Linked DNA regions of Homo sapiens. The protein of the gene in region 1 purifies or fractionates together with the protein of each later gene. This does not show direct contact. Each region holds a gene or a part of one and is shown on either strand. Other genes may lie near its edges. The genes, in order: ATPAF1, POGLUT1, MACROD1, SULF2 and DNAJC17.

What was found.
Region 2: the proteins of ATPAF1 (region 1) and POGLUT1 fractionate together in Homo sapiens (co-fractionation; one large-scale study listed by BioGRID). This does not show direct contact.
Region 3: the proteins of ATPAF1 (region 1) and MACROD1 purify together in Homo sapiens (affinity purification with mass spectrometry; one large-scale study listed by BioGRID and IntAct). This does not show direct contact.
Region 4: the proteins of ATPAF1 (region 1) and SULF2 purify together in Homo sapiens (co-immunoprecipitation; one large-scale study listed by IntAct). This does not show direct contact.
Region 5: the proteins of ATPAF1 (region 1) and DNAJC17 fractionate together in Homo sapiens (co-fractionation; one large-scale study listed by BioGRID). This does not show direct contact.

Annotation. Positions count from the first base shown.
Region 1 is NC_000001.11:46,654,863-46,658,380, reverse strand, and holds part of ATPAF1 (ATP synthase mitochondrial F1 complex assembly factor 1), read left to right. Parts: intron 1-191; coding exon 192-254; intron 255-3,518. UniProt on the Homo sapiens protein: Has a complex stabilizing activity in the assembly of the mitochondrial F1-F0 complex.
Region 2 is NC_000003.12:119,485,950-119,489,467, reverse strand, and holds part of POGLUT1 (protein O-glucosyltransferase 1 precursor), read right to left. Parts: intron 2,636-3,518; coding exon 2,536-2,635; intron 540-2,535; coding exon 481-539; intron 1-480. UniProt on the Homo sapiens protein: Dual specificity glycosyltransferase that catalyzes the transfer of glucose and xylose from UDP-glucose and UDP-xylose, respectively, to a serine residue found in the consensus sequence of C-X-S-X-P-C.
Region 3 is NC_000011.10:64,152,607-64,156,124, reverse strand, and holds part of MACROD1 (ADP-ribose glycohydrolase MACROD1), read left to right. Parts: intron 1-3,518. UniProt on the Homo sapiens protein: Removes ADP-ribose from aspartate and glutamate residues in proteins bearing a single ADP-ribose moiety. Inactive towards proteins bearing poly-ADP-ribose.
Region 4 is NC_000020.11:47,670,465-47,673,982, forward strand, and holds part of SULF2 (extracellular sulfatase Sulf-2 isoform a precursor), read right to left. Parts: intron 1,930-3,518; coding exon 1,734-1,929; intron 1-1,733. UniProt on the Homo sapiens protein: Exhibits arylsulfatase activity and highly specific endoglucosamine-6-sulfatase activity. It can remove sulfate from the C-6 position of glucosamine within specific subregions of intact heparin.
Region 5 is NC_000015.10:40,776,457-40,779,974, forward strand, and holds part of DNAJC17 (dnaJ homolog subfamily C member 17), read right to left. Parts: coding exon 3,472-3,518; intron 3,148-3,471; coding exon 3,089-3,147; intron 2,855-3,088; coding exon 2,767-2,854; intron 172-2,766; coding exon 86-171; intron 1-85. UniProt on the Homo sapiens protein: May negatively affect PAX8-induced thyroglobulin/TG transcription.

The DNA.
Region 1 (3,518 bases):
AGAACTATGAAAACCTGTCTAGGCTTGGGGGCTCACTTTCTCTGAGCATGTGGGTTTTCTTATACTTGTTTTCTACTTTTGGAAATCTGTTTCATTGTCCTGACATGTTTGCCACAGGCTTAGAGATAGAGTTAAGCTGTTTTTTTTTTTTTTTAATTATGTGTTAATTGCTTTTTATTGTCTCTTTCAAGACTCTCAGTTCAATCTTTAACATTGAGATGGTAAAAGAAAAAACTGCAGAAGAAATAAAACAGGTAATGAATGGAAATGGGCTGGCCTACTCTATGAAAATGTGAATTCTGTGAACCAAATCTGAAAGTACATTTTCTGACACCTCTTTCTAGCCACAATGAAAGGTAATAATAAAAGGCAAAAGTGATGAATTACTTGAAGAACAATGTCATAAGAAAACTTGTCTTCTTTGTCACTCTTATATGTCTAATCAACTTGTATGTCTAGTTTCTTTTTCATTCCCATAATCCACATCTCGTGTAACCCTCATCAGTACTCTGTACCTGGATTACTGCACTACCTTTCCAAATAGGTTTCCCTTCTCCTTTTTTTTCCACTCCACCCATAATATTCTCATCAACTGAGTCCTCTGAAACTTCTCCTTTCATTATGGAGAAGTATAGTGTATTGGTTTAAAAACACAGACTCTAGAACCAAGCTGCCGGTTTTAAGTCCTAGCTCTGCCACTATCTATAGGACTTGGACAAGTTAATCAACTTGTCTGGGCTTTAGTTTCCCTATTTAAAGTGGAGCAAATAATAGCACTTACCTCATAGAGTTATTTGGATAATTAAATGAGTTAACATTTATTATCACTTAGAACAGTCCCTGGCATAGAGTAAGTGCTATATTTATGTTTTTTAAAAAATGGGAAAAAAATGTATTAGGAACCTGGTCACAAATGTTCAGTGACTTCCTGTATTCCTTTTCTGGGCATTCATAGCTCTCCATTATCACAGGACCTTCTTCAGGAAGCTTCCTGAACACTTTCCTTCAAAGCACTCATGAGCTATCCTGCCTGTTTGGTCATTTATATTTTTATACCTGTGATTCTTTTCTCTCTAATAAGCTATTTTTCTGGCATTCTTTATAGTTCCATGAATTATACATTAGGTAGATTGAGAGGATCAAAATAATAATAAAAGCAGCATACTCTGTATCAGGTACAATGCCTAATGCTTCATATGCATTATTTCATTAAATTCTCTTAACCACCCCGTGAAGTGGGTGCCATTATTCCCAGTTTACAGTTGAGGAAACTGTGACTTAAAGAGATTATGTAACTTAGTCAGTGGTAGAGCTGGGACTCAAACCCATGTCTATTTGACTCTGCATCATATTCCCACAACTGGAAGTTGTGCCAGTTGCCATGGGTTTCCTTTGTATGCTGTATCATTTATTTTAGCACACATTTAATGCATACCAATTAAATGTCAGACTCTGTGCCAGATACAGAGATAAATGAGAGAATCCTCATCCCCAAGGAGTTTTAGCCTCCGCAAAACGGATCAGATCAGCACAGGGTTCTTTCTATTAATAGAGGCATATGCAAAGTGTCAGGGAGAACTCTGGCTGTGCCTTTGGGAAGAAGTACCAAAGGAACATGGACACAAAACATGTCATTTAGGGGAAAAAGAAGCCAGGCCCAGGAGGCCTGATCATATGACAAGTATCATTGAGACCTATAGTTTTAGGTATAAATTTGTGTTTGTTGAAATGAGTAGCTAAATTCAACTATATAAGGAAACATATATCAGTCTCATGAATTTCAGTTTTGATTCATAAACTGTCTGCTAATATCATAAATTAAATAAAAATAATCAGAATATGCTGTCCTTAAAATGAGAAGACAATGTTTTGACATGCAAAAAAAGAAAAGGTAAAGCAACCTTATGCCACATTGAGAGTAGTTTCCATAGGTCCTAGGAGTTAATAGTCCTTTTGTGCTCTGTGTTGATTAGATGGATCACACTTTGATTAGTATCTTCAATTGGGGCCCCATATTTTAACAGAAATGTTGACAAAACAGACCAACTCTAAAGGAAGTTGACCCATTCTTCAACACTAGCTCACTCTGGTGTCACCTTGGTTATGATACCCTCCTCTACTTCTATGCCTTTGTTAGTGTTGTCATTCTCTGCTTCAAATGTGTCTCTTATCTCCTTCTCCTGCCCTACCTGTTATCTTCCCAGCCTCCTTATTTCCCTACTCTAACTCCTAATCATTCTTCAGGATACAGTTCCAAGTGTCCCTTCCTCTGGCACTCTTCCCTACCCTGGGTTAAGTGCCTCTTTTAGATTACATGTTTCTTATTATTTCACAATCATCTATCATTCAACCAGCATTTCTGAGTACTTTTTGGGTTGCAAGGCATTGGTGACAACACAGCAGATACCTGCCTACAGGGGGCTTGCAAACTAGTGAGGGAAATAGATCCATATGCAAATGATCTTATTATGAAGTAGCATATCCTAGGCATCTTAAGAGAGATATAAAATATGAAAGCAAGGGGGAGGAAATAAATAAAATAGAAAAGCAGCTCATAGGAAAACTTCTGACTGTAATATCAAGGGAAACTGCATGGAAGAAGAAGCATATAGGCTCAGCTTCAGAGTACAGGAAGAATTTGGGAGGTCAGAGGTAGGAGAGAGAGGCTTTCTAGTCAGAGCCAATAACATGTAAAAAGGCATGGGAAGGCAAAAAAAAGGTAGTAAAAAATAAGAACACAGAGCATCCATATGATATTAATGGTAAATAATGAAAAGACACAATATTGCATATATGCTACATCTATGTATACTATAAAAGACATGCTAGAAAGAAATAAAGTAACAGTGGTCTTTGTTAGGGTGGTAGGACTATGGGCATTTTTTCCTTTTCCCTGTTTTCTAATTTTCAAATTTTATTATATAATTTTTTTATTCCCCACCTTTTGGTATTTGCATCATGAAGGTCAACTGTAGCTTCCTTGTTCGTTAGTGTCAAGCAGAGGTAGGACTTCTGATTGGTATATACCATAGTCAGATCCAACAGACCTTATCTCTTCCACATGTAGAAGACTTTCTGGAAGCAGGATTTTAAGAGCTGCCTATAACATGCCAATAATATCTAATATGGTTTTGCTGTGTCCCCACCCAAATCTCATCTTGAATTGTAGTTCCCATAATCCCCACACATCATGGGAGGGACACAATGGGAGGTAATTGAATCATAGGGGCAGTTACCTCCATGCTGTTCCCATGATAATGAGTTCTCACGAGATCTGATGGTTTTATAGGGGGCTTTTCCCCCTTTTGCTCATTCTTCTTCCTGTCACCATGTGAAGAAGGATGTGTTTGCTTCCCCTTCCACCATGATTGTAAGATTCTTAACGCCTTCCCAGCCCTGTGGAACTGTGAGTCACTTAAACCTCTTTCCATTATAAATTACCCAGTCTCTGGATTAAGAAAATATGGCACATTTACACCATGGAATACTATGCAGCCATAAAAAAGCATGAGTTCATG
Region 2 (3,518 bases), on another chromosome or scaffold:
ATCTAATTCTTAGTCCCAGAATTTTATTTTATTTCTCTTAGAGACAGGGTCTCACTATGTAGCCCAGGCTGGTCTTGAACTCTTGGGCTCAAAGGATCCTCCTACCTCAGCCTCCCGAGTAGCTAAGACTACAGGAGCATGCCAGCACACCAGGATAATAATTCTAATATTTATTAACTGAGAAATATTTATTCTAACTTCAATGATTGGGTGGGTGGGGCATATGGAGAGGTAATTCCATTACTGTGATTACTAGCTAGCATGCAGCTGTTTGGAAGCAGGAACCATGTTCCATTCTTCTCTACAGTCGCCACAGAACTCAGGTCAGTGCATTTAGGCCCTGAGGAAAAGCCAGTGAAATGAATTAATGCAACTTTCATTTACTCCAGCTGGGCCTTTATATTAAAGTTCTCACCCAAAGTGAAGCTATTTCAAAAGCAGTATGGAAACCAAGAAAGTGAGGAGTCCTGCAAATCTTACTTGTATTTGCAGTGATCCACAAGATGGACATCCTTAGCAGCTGGCTTTCCTAAGGTATCCTTTAAGTGGAAAGGAAGTTATTAGTATTAACAGCAACAGCATTTATTGTGATCACTGTGCAGCAAGCATTGTTAAACATTTCATCAACATTACCTCATTTAAGCTTCATAATCAATATACTCAGGAGACATTATTATTCCCATTATATAAATGCAGAAGCCAAGGCTTTGGAAGTTGAGATTTGCTCAAGGTCAGTGTGGCTCTAAATAGAAGACAGAGTTTTAACCAGGGCCCGTCTGATTTTAAAGTTTAAGCACACCTAAAGCCATGTTGCCCTCCTTTGAATTCAGATGTCACAGCCTGCAGCACACTTCACTCTGTGTAAATAATGTATGCAGAGAAGGTCCCAAGTGCTGGCTGATGGCCTTAGGGGTGTATATAGCCCATGCTCAAATTTTGTTGGGCATGCAAAGTATTTTTTTTTTTAAATCAAATCATTGCCAACATTTACAGGTGGTAGGATATTTCTTGCAAAAATCCAGATTTCCAGTCTTTCTTGGAGAATAAAAAGGAAGATCTGGCAAACTGGGCTCTTATTAACATTTGGAACTGTTAGTATTCTCTCTTGCTCACCTCTTGACATCACCTGCTGGCCCCTGGGGACATCTGAGTTTGACATCCCCAGGTACATTCCATCCACCTTAGCAGATGGTAAACTCCTTGATGAGGGGACAAGTTTTGTTTGCTTCTGCAGCCTCCCACAGTAGATGCTAACAACTTTTGTTCTAAATGAACACATTTTTTCATATTTTTATTATTCAACAAAGTTTCTTAAGCTCACTTGCTCCTGATTAAAACTGTATGAAATAATACATGCACCTCAGATTTACTTAGTTTTCTCCCAAGAAGTCTAAAGCTTTTCCTCATAGCATCCTCATATGGTATATGGAAATTTCATATAAAGGAAGTTTAGGGCTTTAATTTCTTTGATTAAGGCAAAAAGCCATAGAGTTAAGAGGAGAGAGTGGACTGTAAACCAACGGTCCCATTTCTGGCTTCACCTTAGAATCACTTGAAAAGTTTTAAACAAATGAAGATTCCTGGACACCATTCCCAGAGATTCTGACTCATTTGATTCATTTTCTTAAGCTCTCTGGTTGTATTGCACAGCCAGGGTTGAGACCATTGATTTAAACCAGGGGTTGGCAAACTACGACCCACAGGCCAAATTTGACCCACTGCTTGTTTTTGTCATGGACTAAGAAATTTTTACATTTCAAATGGTTAAAAAAAAAGGCAAAAGAATAATATTTTATGACAACTTAAAATTACATGAAATTCAAATTTCAGTGCCCATAAAGTTTTTATTTTTTATTATTTTTATTTTTATTTACTTATTTTTGAGACGGAGTCTTGCTCTGTCGCCAGGCTGGAGTGCAATGGCGTGATCTCGGCTCACTGCAATCTCTGCCTCCCAGGTTCAAGCGATTCTCCTGCCTCAGCCTCCCCAGTAGCTGGGACTACCGGCACATACCACCATGCCCGGCTAATTTTTGTGTTTTTAGTAGAGACGGGGTTTCACCATGTTGGCCAGGCTGGTCTTGAACTCCTGACCTCAAGTGATCCACCCGCCTCGCCTCCCAAAGTGCTAGGATTACAGGCATGAGCCACCATGCCTGGCCGTAATAAAGTTTTAATAAAAACACTGCCAGGCTCATTCATTTACAAACTGCCCATGTCTGTTGGCAACTGCAATAGAGACCATACGACCTGCAAAACCTACAACATTTACTATTTGGCCCTTCCTGGAAAAAGTTTGTGACCCCTGGTTTAAACCTTCAAAGTAGTGCAATATACTAGTCATAATATGGCCAGAAAAGCAATGTAAGTTTGAAAAAGGAGAATTTACATATATGCTAATGCTGGTTCATGGAACTTTCTTTACATTCACCTCACCACTGACAGGAAACCTAATCTCAAATTCTACCCAGGTGGCAATGTTCTTTGAGTGAGAATGTTCACTGCTGTAGTTCTAGTCAGATGACTGGTGATTACTTTCATAGATTTCCAGGCCTGGTTTTTGGTGTATTCTGCATCAACAAGTTTTGGGTTTTTCCGAGACAGAAGAATGAGAGGATCTCGTTCTGGACTTGTCCTATAAAAGAAACACGTGACATAAAACTGTGTGGCCTGTATTAGAAAACTGTTCCCAATCCCTGAAAGGTGAGCAGGACTAGGACCCAATGCAATGACTCTGCACAAGTGGACAATTCACTGGTGACGTGACAGCGGAGGAGGGGTATACTGGGTACTGCAGCATCTAGGTCATCCAGGGCTGGTCCCCTCTGTACCTTTAGGGTTGGGGGGTACTTGGCCCTTCTTTGCTTGCATTTGGTCTTGAAGGGTATGTTGTTCAGGTCACTATAGTCAAATCCCAGGGAATGATTTCCCTTTTAGGAAAGTTCATGTGGCTTCTATAATCACTGGTGCTCATAACTGTGAGGCTAGGTAGTCACGACTCACTAAAACAGCTACATGACCTTTGTTATGTATGCTCTGTACAGCCCAGTATAATATTTAATTTAAAAAAAATGCACAAAAACCAAAGGGCTTAAAAACCTGACGACTGTATGTGGAAGAATTTCTAGTGATGTTCCAAGTAGCAGAGGGTCTTGACATGTGAGGCATCATGGATTCCTTGATAATCTGTTAAGAACTATGAACCAACCCTCTCTCCTTCCCAGAAAAATGCACATATCCTCACATAATTTCAAGGGAGTCCTAAAACTCTTGAAGTCCAGACATGGTCCCCAAGTTAATTTGTGACTTCAAGATTTAAGAATCAGAGAAGTTGGTAAGAAACAGGACATAGTAGCTGGATAATCCATTTACCTCCTAAAGTCTAGCTCCGAAGTGAAGAGGAGGGTGAAGAGGGAGTATAATCTCTGGCAAGGACTCACTTGCTAAAACTACAAAACCCTGCTCCCTTCATGGTCTTTTCTATTCATCTGCTCCACAGATATTTATCATATATTGAC
Region 3 (3,518 bases), on another chromosome or scaffold:
TTTTTTTTTTTTTTTTGAGATGGAGTTTTGCTCTTGTTGCCCAGGCTGGAGTGCAATGGTGTGATCTCAGCTCACCGCAACCTCCGCCTCCCAGGTTCAAGCGATTCTCCTGCCTCAGCCTCCCGAGTAGCTGGGATTACAGGCATGTACCACCACACCCGGCTAATTTTGTATTTTTAGTAGAGATGGGGTTTCACCATGTTGGCCAGGCTGATCTCAAACTCCTGATGTCAGGTGATCCACCTGTCTCGGCCTCCCAAAATGCTGGGATTACAGGTGTGAGCCACCATGCCCGGCCGCTCAGCTGATTTTTTGTATTTTTTGGTAGAGATGGGGTTGCTCCATATTGTCCAGGCTGGTCTCGAACTCCTGGGCTCAGGTGATTGGCTTGCCTTGGTCTCCCCAAGTGCTGGGGACCCAAATAATTAGAAAAGTTCCTCCGGCTGCTGTGTCCCCAAGTTGGAAAAAAAAGTTCTCCACAATTTTGTCCTGTTTGCTTTGTTCTCTTTGGGCATTATTTAGCCGCCAGGAAGGAGTGAGTGTGTCTGGCGTGTAGACCGCACTTTGCAGCACACAGCCACCTTCTCCTTTGACCCTCCCAGCAAGCCTGGGTGTTAGCAAGGGAAGGCCTGCCTTGTCCCTATTCCAGAGATGGGAAAACCCAAGGCTTCAAACTGAGCATGGTGTTGGGAGGTCACGAACCCAAACCTGGCGGGACCTATAACAGAAGAAAAGGCGCAGCCTGGGTCTAGGCCGGCTGCCACCAGCATCTGTCCGTCCTCAGACAGGGAGGCAGACCTGGAGAGACCGACTGGCCTCACTTTCTCCACCCAAATGCTCTCTCTCTTTTTTTTCTTTTTTAATTAGGGGATCATCTCTGGCTCCCTCTTACCTCTGGGCTTTTGCACATACTGTTCCCTCTGCCTAGAAGACTCTGTACTTAGCAAACTCGCCCTCAACCTTTGGTCTTGGCTCATTTATTCCTCAGCGTGCCCCTCAGGCACCCTCAGGTGCCCACACACCGTGCCAGGTGGTGGGAATCTGATGGCAAACACAGCAGATCCCCTATGGAACCTACAGGTCAAGATGGCCAAGATCAAGAAAGGGGGCCGGCGCCGTGGCTCACGCCTGTAATTCCAGCACTTCGGGAGGCTGACATGGGTGGATTGCTTGAGGTCAGGAGTTCAAGTCCAGCCTGGCCAACATGGTGAAACCCCATCTCTATTAAAATACAAAAATTAGTTGGGTGTGCTGGCACACGCGTGTAATCCCAGCTACTAGGGAGGCTGAGGCAGGAGAATTGCTTGAATCCAGGAGTGCAGGTTGCAGTGAGCCAAGATCGTGCCACTGCACTCCAGCCTGGGCGACAGAGTGAGACTCCGTCTCAAAAAAAAATAAAAGAATAAGTGTAAACAAAAGCAAACTATCCCATATCCTGCAGAGCACAGCAGGTACAAAGGGCCTGGGGCAGGAAGCAGCCTGGCTGTTTGGGGAACTGGTGTAGTGGGGGAGGCAGCATTGGGAGTGAGGTGGGAGAGAGGCCAGAGGACCGGCGTTTGAATGCAGTTTTGAACAGAGGAGGGATGGCACCTGATTTATGTTCCCAGGATCCATGGCTGCCGGTCAAGGAACAGATGGGGATGAGATGCACACGGAGATCAGCTGGGAGTTGGGAGCGTCTGTGGGATCTAGGGAGCCATGAGGAAGGCTCAGTCCTGGAGGGTGAGAGGAAGGCTTGGTTTCTAGGGTGTCACGGGGATCAATCCAAAAGAGGATGGAAAGGGAGGGACCCCTGGTGCAGGGTCTCGAGTAAAAAAGAGGGAAGAATGGAGCAACAAAAAAATGACGTTTTGGGGGAAAGAGTCAAACGTTCTGTTTTGCATGCCTGGGCTTTGGGGAATGAGAGCAGGCAGGCACTGTGGGGGTCAGAGGCTCAGAAGAGAGTGGAGGGACAGCCCCGGAGGTTGCTTGCTTAAAGAGCGTTTTGAATCTGTGCAACTGATTAGAAGACCTAGGGAGGAAAGCAGCAAGGACACTTCCTGTCCACAGGGAAGGCAGGAGGGGCCGCTGCATGGGGTGTGGTGACCTTGACCTTGTTGGAAGGAGGGACCAGACTGGGTGGACTGAAGGGAGCATGGGAGGGAAGAAGTGGAGACAGCAGAGGAGGGGGCAGCTGCAGGGGCGTGGAATGCGGGCGTTGAGGGAGGGGACGGGATTATTTGAGGGCAGGCAGGACAGCCTGGTGGAGGGGGACCTGCAGCAGTGAGTCCTCTGGGAGGTGGGCTTGGCAGGTGGCAGCGCTGGTACTGAATGCAGGACCTACTCGTGCCCAAACATGTTTATGGAAGAGGGGGCAGAAGTGGCTGCCAGGAAAGGTGGCTCTGGCTTGAGCAGCAGTGGGGGCTGACCAGGGGTGGGCCTAGCCTTTTGTGATGACCCCACCTTTGCATCCAGCAGGGACTCTGGACTGGGCCCCTTGCATGAGTTCTGTCATCTAATGCTCTCAGCATCCTTGGGTTGTTATCACCCCTGCCAGCAGTGGTTAGATGAGGAGATGGAGGCCTGGATGATGAAGTGACTCTGGCCGGGAAAACACCCTGCTGTGTGAGGGTGGCCTCCCAACCTCCCTGAACATTTGTGGAGGGACCTACCTGTCCCCCTCACTGCCATGTGCATAGAAGCTTCCAGGCTGCAGTCCTTCCTTTCTCACCACCTCCTCTAATTGCTCTCCCGCCTCTACATATTTTTTGATGCTTTTTGAGTTTCTCAATTGTAGCCTTTGCTGTTTGCCGTGGGGGCTGCCCCATCCCGGGAGCCTGTGGTCCAGGGTGCCAGGCTGGGCTGAGCGCCTGGGTGTGCAGGCGGCCTCGGGCCAGCAGGGGGAGCCCGTGAGCTGCTAGCCTGGCCTGGCGCGGTCGGGGCGGGCCCTTCTGAGACGGGTTCCAGGTTTCTGTGCCTGGTGCCACCCCCAAGGGAAGGCGGAGCCCATGGGACAGTGCTCAGGCAAGGGGAGCCGGCCAGGGTGGACCCCGAGTCTGTGAGCGGGTGGGGGGTGCCTGGCTCCTCACTCAAGTCCCTGCTGTGTGAGGGTGGCCTCCCAACCTCCCTGAGCCCCGGTTTCCTCATCTGTAAAACGAGAACGATTCCAACCCCATTGGTCATGCTGGGAGCCCTCAGCCGCTGCCGGGGGGGATGTTGGGGACAGGTGCCAGGTCCACTTGGTCCTGCAGCTCCTGGAGGAGGACAGCTGTCCCGCTGCCTGCATGCAGTGACAGTGAGGGCAGAACTGACTGGCGGTGGGACTGATGGATAATGTCGCTGGCTGAGTGCTGCCAACCGGCTTGGCCTTAGTGTGTGGGAGGAAGCTCGGAGCTGTTCTGCAGGGGACGTCTTCACCCCCGTTCTAATCAGGGAGAAACGGGGGACCCAGAGAGATGTGGACGCTGCTGGAAAGTGGCAGAGCTGAATTCATCACAACCCAGGTCTGCGATGCCTGAGCCAGTCCCTCAGCCTCCCCA
Region 4 (3,518 bases), on another chromosome or scaffold:
TACAGGCGTGAGCCACTGTGCCCGATCAGGAAGGAGATTCCAACACAGGCTACCATGTGGATGAACCCGGAGAACATTATGCGAAGAGAAATAAGCCAGCCACAGAAGGACAAATACTGTACAATTCCACTTACATGAGGCCCCTAAAGCAGTCAAGCTCATAGAGAAGAAGAGTGGTTGCTGAGAACGGGTGGGAGAATGGGGTGACAGCAGGGTGGGAGAGCGGGGTGGGAGAACGGGGTGGGGGTGGGAGCGGGGTGGGAGAATGGGGAGATAACGTTGAATGGGGACAGTTGTAGTTTTGCAAGATGAAGAGTTCATTTAGCAGATAGGTTGCGTACTAGTGGGAATATAGTTGACACTACTGGATACTTAAAAATGGTTAAGATGATAAATTTTATGGGAATTTCACCATAATTTTTTTTAAAAACAACACCTAAAATCTCTCATTAGGCTTTGGCTGTCCTTAGGCCAGAGAAATGGGCTACGTGGGAAGCTGCCCAGCCTTGGAGGGCACACTTCTAGCCGGCGGACCCCGACGCCTCCACACATTTTCAGGGCACAGGCTCATTCTTGTTTTAAAGTCATGCAGGGACCATTCTTCCTGTTTGATGGTGGGAGCTGAGCCTCAGAATGGTGAAGCGATGGCCCAGGGTGGCGGCTGAGCCTTCTGGCTGGGTCTAGAAGAGTCCCTCTCTCCACTTCGCCTGCTCCCTGGCTTCTGTCTGACTGTCCTCTCCTCGGCCCTTGCCGAGAATGAGGTGTGAAGGTGTAGACACTTCTTCAGCTGAGTGAGGCTTTTCCCCACTCAACTATAGTCTATTTTTGTTCTTCAGGGTAGTTTATTTTTTATTTTTTTTGAGACCGAGTCTCACTCTGTCGCCCAGGCTGGAGCACAATGGCGTGATCTCAGCTATCTGCAACCTCTGCTCCCGGGTTCAAGCGACTCTGCTGCCACACCACACGCCCAACTAATTTTTTGTATTTTTAGTAGAGATGGGGTTTCACCATGTTGGCCAGGCTGGTCTTGAACTCCTGACCTCAAGTGATCTGTCCACCTCGGCCTCTCAAAGTGCTGGGATTACAGGTGTGAGCCACCGCGCCCAGCCCAGGGTAGTTCTATAAACTCACCACAAACACTGACTAATTGAACGCTGAAACATGGCTCCTAGGGGAAGCACAGAGCTGGGTTCCTGTGAACCTCTGGTCCTAGCATTTTCACCAGCCAATCAATACAGAACCTTGTATGTGTGTTTCTTCCTTTTTTTTGAGATGGATCTCGCTCTGTTGCCCAGGCTGGAGTGCAGTGGCACAATCTCGGGTCACTGCAGCCTCTGCCTCCTGGGTTCAAGCGATTCTCATGCCTCAGCCTCCCAAGTAGCTGGGATTACAAGCGTGAGCCACCACATCTGGCTAATTGTTGTATTTTTAGACGGGGTTTTACCATGTTGGCCAGGCTGGTCTGGAGCTCCTGACCTCAGGTGATCTGCCTGCCTCGGACTCCCAAAGTACTGGGATTACAGGCGTGAGCCATTGCGCCTGGCCTTATCTGTTTATTACTACTGCTCCCCACTAGAATGGGTGGCTCGTGAGGAGATGTGGCTGTGTCCCCAGCCCCTAGATCACCACCTGGCAAAGTGACAGTCTCTGTGGAACTGTCGGAGTGAATGAATGGGGCCCCCCAGGCATGGTCTCTCTCCTCCTGTCCCACTCAGCCAGGTTGTGACACTTACTCTTCTTGAAGAGTTTTTTCCGGCGTCCGGCCAGGCTGAGCTTGTAGTCCCCGCTGTCACAGGTGCAGGCCTCGCTGCCCTGCCCGTAGTACTTGGGCACGAGGTTGGAGAGGGCTCTGCTGCCGCCCAGCCGCATGGGGCCCTTGCACTTATGCAGCTTCAGCTTCCCCGTGGCGTCCTCCACACACTGCCACTTCTGAAAGACATGCCAGGGCCTCGGCCAGCTGCTCATCTGCTCCCCTAAACCCGCCTCTCCCCTGCCACCCCCATCCACCCTGGAGACATCCCTCTCCCTGCTTGCATCCAGCTGTTACCGAGCCCCACCTCTGCTATCTCCAATGCCGCTTCTCTCCACTGCCACTGCTTGAACCTTGGGCAGAGCTACCATCATCCCCCAGCGAGATGCCTCCGACAGCCACCACTCTCACGGTTACCTGCTTCTGTCTGCTCCTAAAATCCACCCACATGGCAGCTAGAGGAATCTTTTTAAAGGGCAAGTTGGATCATATTACTCTCCTACTTAAAACCCTTCAATGGCTCCCACTGTCTTTAAGACAAGACCCAAGCTCCTGATACTAGTCTTTGAACATCCTCTGCAATCTGGCCCTGGCCTACCCATCGGTCCTCCTCTCCCTCAGCCCTCTCTCCAGTATCCCCTGTGGGCTGCTGCCCCAGGGACTTGGCGCTCACTGTTCCTTCTGCCTAGAATGCCTTTTCTCCAGCCCTTCCTGCTGCTGGAGGCTTCTCTTCCTTCCCGTCTGCTCCAGCGCAAGGAGGTCTCCCCTGACCACCTTCCCAGACTCAATCAGTGCAGTGTGTGCAGAGGCTCCACGTGTGCACTCAACTCCAGGCCTGTGGTCAGACGCTGAATGTAGATAGAATCACTGTCCAAATCTCTCGTGTTGATCCTTCTGCTCTTCCCCAGTTCCAGCCTCCTGGATCCCCTCACGGGATTCTGCAACCACCTGTAAACTGGATTCTCTTCCCTTCTGTCCACAGCTGCTCCAGCCCATTGACCCAGTGACTCTTTAGGGCCTATTCTGTGCCAAAGTGACCTTTCCAGGCCATGGGTCAGATCTGTTCCCTGTGTCTCTCCAGCACTTAGCATGTGCCAAGCACTGTGTGTTAATATATTAACTTGCTTACTACACCTCACGCTACCCTACGAGGCAGGTGCTGTCATTACTGTGCCGATTCAAGATGAGGCACACGGAGGTAGAGAGATGTGTCCTGGGTCACACAACTGGGAGGTGCAAGAGCTGTAAGGAAAAGTGTGGAGTCTGGTGCCACCATCCCCCCCAACCCTCTGCTGCACCGTCTGCCCCCGCCCGCTGCCGTTGAAGGCCCTGGTGCCTTTCACCTGCTCATCTTGCCCCTGTCCCGCCCATCTGTTCTCACCTGGAGGCTGAATCTAATTGCATTCACAGCGCCCTGCCACCCTCCCATCCCCTTCAATGCATGCAGGCCCTTCCAGCAACCTGGATTCCTTAGTGCAGAAGTAGACTGATGGGCCAGCAGGCATGGCCCTGAATGAGGCCAGCCCAGAAGCGCCTGGGGGACCTGGGGAGGCTAAAGTGGGCACTGTGACCGGCTATACCCATCTGACTGTCGCCAGAGGGGAGCACAGGCCCAGAAGCCCAGGTCTGATTTTTCAAGAAAAGCCAGGGCTCTGAGTTCTGCGTGAAGCCCTGAGCTGTGTGCGCTGGCGAGCAGCCTCCTGTCCACTTAGCTCTCTCTGCCTGGAATTCTCCTTCCCCACTGCCTGCTCCCCGCTCCAACCCAACA
Region 5 (3,518 bases), on another chromosome or scaffold:
TCTAGCCACGGCGACCACCAGGTCCATCCTCCCCCACCTCCTCCTCCTGCAGGTGGCCTTCTGGCCAGTGTGCCTGAGTGCTCACCTCTTGCTCTAGTGTCCTGGTGCTCCGGCTCTCCTCTTCCTCCTCACTCTCCTGGGCCTGGGCCTGCCGCTCCCGGGCCTCCAGGTCTAGACACAAGGGTTGAATGACCAGACTGCTGGTCTGTTCAGTTTCCATGTGGCCTCGGCCCACCCCAGCTCTGGCTGCCTCCCCAAAGTCTCAATCACGACGAGATCATACAGTAACTCTGCCCCCTCCCTCCATGCCCACGCCCCCGAGTCAATTTCCATTGAGAAAAATCACAGCACAGAAGTATGGGGTCTAGCAGAGTGGCCAGGGGTCTGGAAGAGTTAAAAACAGCTCACACTGACCAAGCTGGTTCTCTCTAGTGAACAGGGTGTGGGTGGTGCTTATGTCAGCAGCCCAGGGCCATGTGTCAGGGGTGCCAATGGGCGGAGCTGCTGGGCTCGATTCCTGTGGTTTGGCACCACAGCTTGACTTGCTTTGGCTTTGATTCTTTTCACACACTGAGCTCAGGTTCTCACTGTCTCCTTTACCTCCCACCTCAACTCACATTTACCAAGCCTCACTGTGGACCTGGCTACAGGGATGGGCAGAGTGTTAGGGCATCACCCCGGGTCCTGGATTGTGTGAGGGCGTTACCTTCCAAGAGAAACCTGCTTGCAACCATGTGCCAGGCCAGCTGCTGTGAGAAACCCTTCTCTTAGTCCAGAGAAGTTTGTGCACTTTACTTACTTAGACTCTCCTTTTCTCTCTCTCTCTTTTTTTTTTTTTTTTTTTGAGATGGGGTCTCCTGGCACTTGCTTTTCTTTTAATATAGAAATAGATATTGGGATGCTATATGCACATATTAAAATATATGGATGTTGAAGAGCAAGAGGAAAAGGAGAAACTTGAGTAAAGAATGCTTGGACTGGGCCAGGCGCGGTGGCTCACGCCTGTAATCCCAGCACTTTGGGAGGCCAAGAGGGGTGGATCACCTGAGGTCAGGAGTTCGAGACCAGCCTGGCCAATGTGGCAAAACTCCGTCTCTACTAAAAATACAAAAATTAGCCGGGTGTGGTGGTGCGCAACTTAGTCCCAGCTACTCGGGAGGCTGAGGCAGGAGAATCGCTTGAACCCAGGAGGCAGAGGTTGAAGTGAGCCGAGATCGTGCCACTGCACTCCAGCCTGGGCAACAAGAGCGAAACTCCGTTTAAGAAAAAAAAAAAAAGAGTGCTTGGACCATGCTGCTATAACCAGTGACTTTTTTTTAAGTGAGAAAAAAAAAATGCTTGCAGCAATCTTATTGGGTTGATGAAAATGTTCCAAATCTGATTTATAGTCAGAGTTGCATCATTTAGTAAATTTACGAAAAATCATTGAAGTGTACACTTGAAATGGGTTGATGTTGTGATATACAAAGAATACCTCAATAAAGCTATTAGAGAAGAGAAAGCCTGGACCTCTTTGAATCCTTCTGAGGGAGCTTCTCAAAGTGAAAAGTCTGGGTAGGAATTGGGGTTAGAACAAATTAAAAGACCCAGCCGGGCACAGCGGCTCGCACCTGTAGTCCCAGCTACTCAGGAGGCCAAGGCAGAAGGACTGCTTGAGCCCAGGAGTTTGAGGCTGCAGTGAGCCATGATGGTGCCACCCTAGCCTGGGTGACAGTACAAAACCCCGTCTTTCTTTAAAAAAAAAAAAAAGAAGAAGAAGACTCAGCCAGAAATGGTGAATACAAGCACCAATTTTTTTGTTTTGTTTTGTTTTTTGAGATGGAGTTTTGCTCTGTCACCCAGGCTAGAGCACAGCAGCGTGATCTCAGCTCACTGCAACCTCTGCCTCCCGGGTTCAAGCAATTCTCTGCCTCAACTTCTCGAGTAGTTGGGATTACAGGCACCCGCCACCACACCCAGCTAATTTTTGTATTTTTAGTAGAGAAGGGGTTTCACCATCTTGGCCAGGCTGGTCTCGAACTCCTGACGTCGTGATCCACCCGCCTCGGCCTCCCAAAGTGCTGGGATTACAGGCGTGAGCCACCGCGCCCGGCCACAAGCACCAATTTTACTCACACTGGATAAGTTTAAATCCCACCTCCAGCAAGCTCTTAAACTTTTGGTGCCTTAGCTCCTTTGCCTATAAAAAATGGCTTCAGAGGCCAGGTGCGGCAGCTCACCAGCTGTAATACCAGCACTTTGGGAGACTGAGGTGGATAGCTTGAGGCCAGGAGTTTAAGACCAGCCTGGCCAACATGGTGAAACTCCATCTCTAAAAAAACGGAACAAAATTAGCCGGGCGTAGTGGTGCATGCCTGTAGTCCCACTATCGTGAGGCTGAGGCACAAGAATCGCCTGAACCCAGAGGGTGGGGGTTGCAGTGAGCCGAGATCATGCCACTGCGCTCCAGCCTAGGTGACAGGGTGAGACCCTGTCTCAAAAAACCATGTTCTTAAAAAAGGTTTAGTACCCACACTTCCTTGTATAGTTATGATAATTAAAGGGACAATAAGGCATTTGTCACAATGCTTAGCTAATATTAAACCTTATTATTGTTATTATTCCTAAGAGTGTCTTTAGGAACCAACCTCTAAGAACAGCGTTTTGCCCAGAGCCTGAGCCAAAAGGCTTTGAGATGAGTTGCTGGAAGTGAAGCTTCAGGTGAGGGAGATGAATGAAAATGACCACAGGAAACCACAGGCCACCGAGCACTATGATGGCACCTACCAAGCTTCACTTTCTTCCTTTTCTCATCAAGTTTCTGGGTCCTCTCTGCTGCTTGCTTCTTGGCTTTCCTGACCTTGTCATATGCAGCCTGGCAGGAGAAAGGGGCACAGGGCAGAGGGTCAGTGAGAGAGTAAAGACAGAGCCCCGGCAATCTGCCTGGCCCCTAGCCCACGAGCCATCAGAGTGGCAGCCTGGTGACTGGGTCTCCTGGGCTTAGACAGCAAGGACTGTGCCACATGGCAAAGGGCAGAGGACCGAGGTTGAGAGGCAGCAGTGGTCTCTAACCATGGGGGACGATTCCGATGAAGGAGGCTGTGCTTACCCTGGCTGCAGCATCGGTCAGCACCTCCAAGGCCTGAGAAAGCTGGTGGAAGAGTTCAGCTAAACATAAGGATCAAAAAGACAGAAGAAAAATAAAGTTAAGACTTCGTAATGGTGTGCTCCCTCAAAAAAAAAAAAAATCTTCAAAGAAGTCACAGGATGGCAGACAAGCCGACATCAGCAGATGACAGACCAACAAGGAGGGGTGAGCATATCAGCAACTGACCAGACACCCCTCACAGGAGGGAAGCCCTGGGACCCATTGCCTGGAGCCAGGCAATGTGTGCTTACACCCCACAGCACTCACATGCAGAGCTTACATCGGGAAACACAATGCCCGGGTGAGTGGGTTTCTTTCTCCCCACGCCCTGAGAAGAGTCTCACCTGCTCTGGGATTATCTGGATTTTTGTCTGGGTGGCAGGAGAGGGCC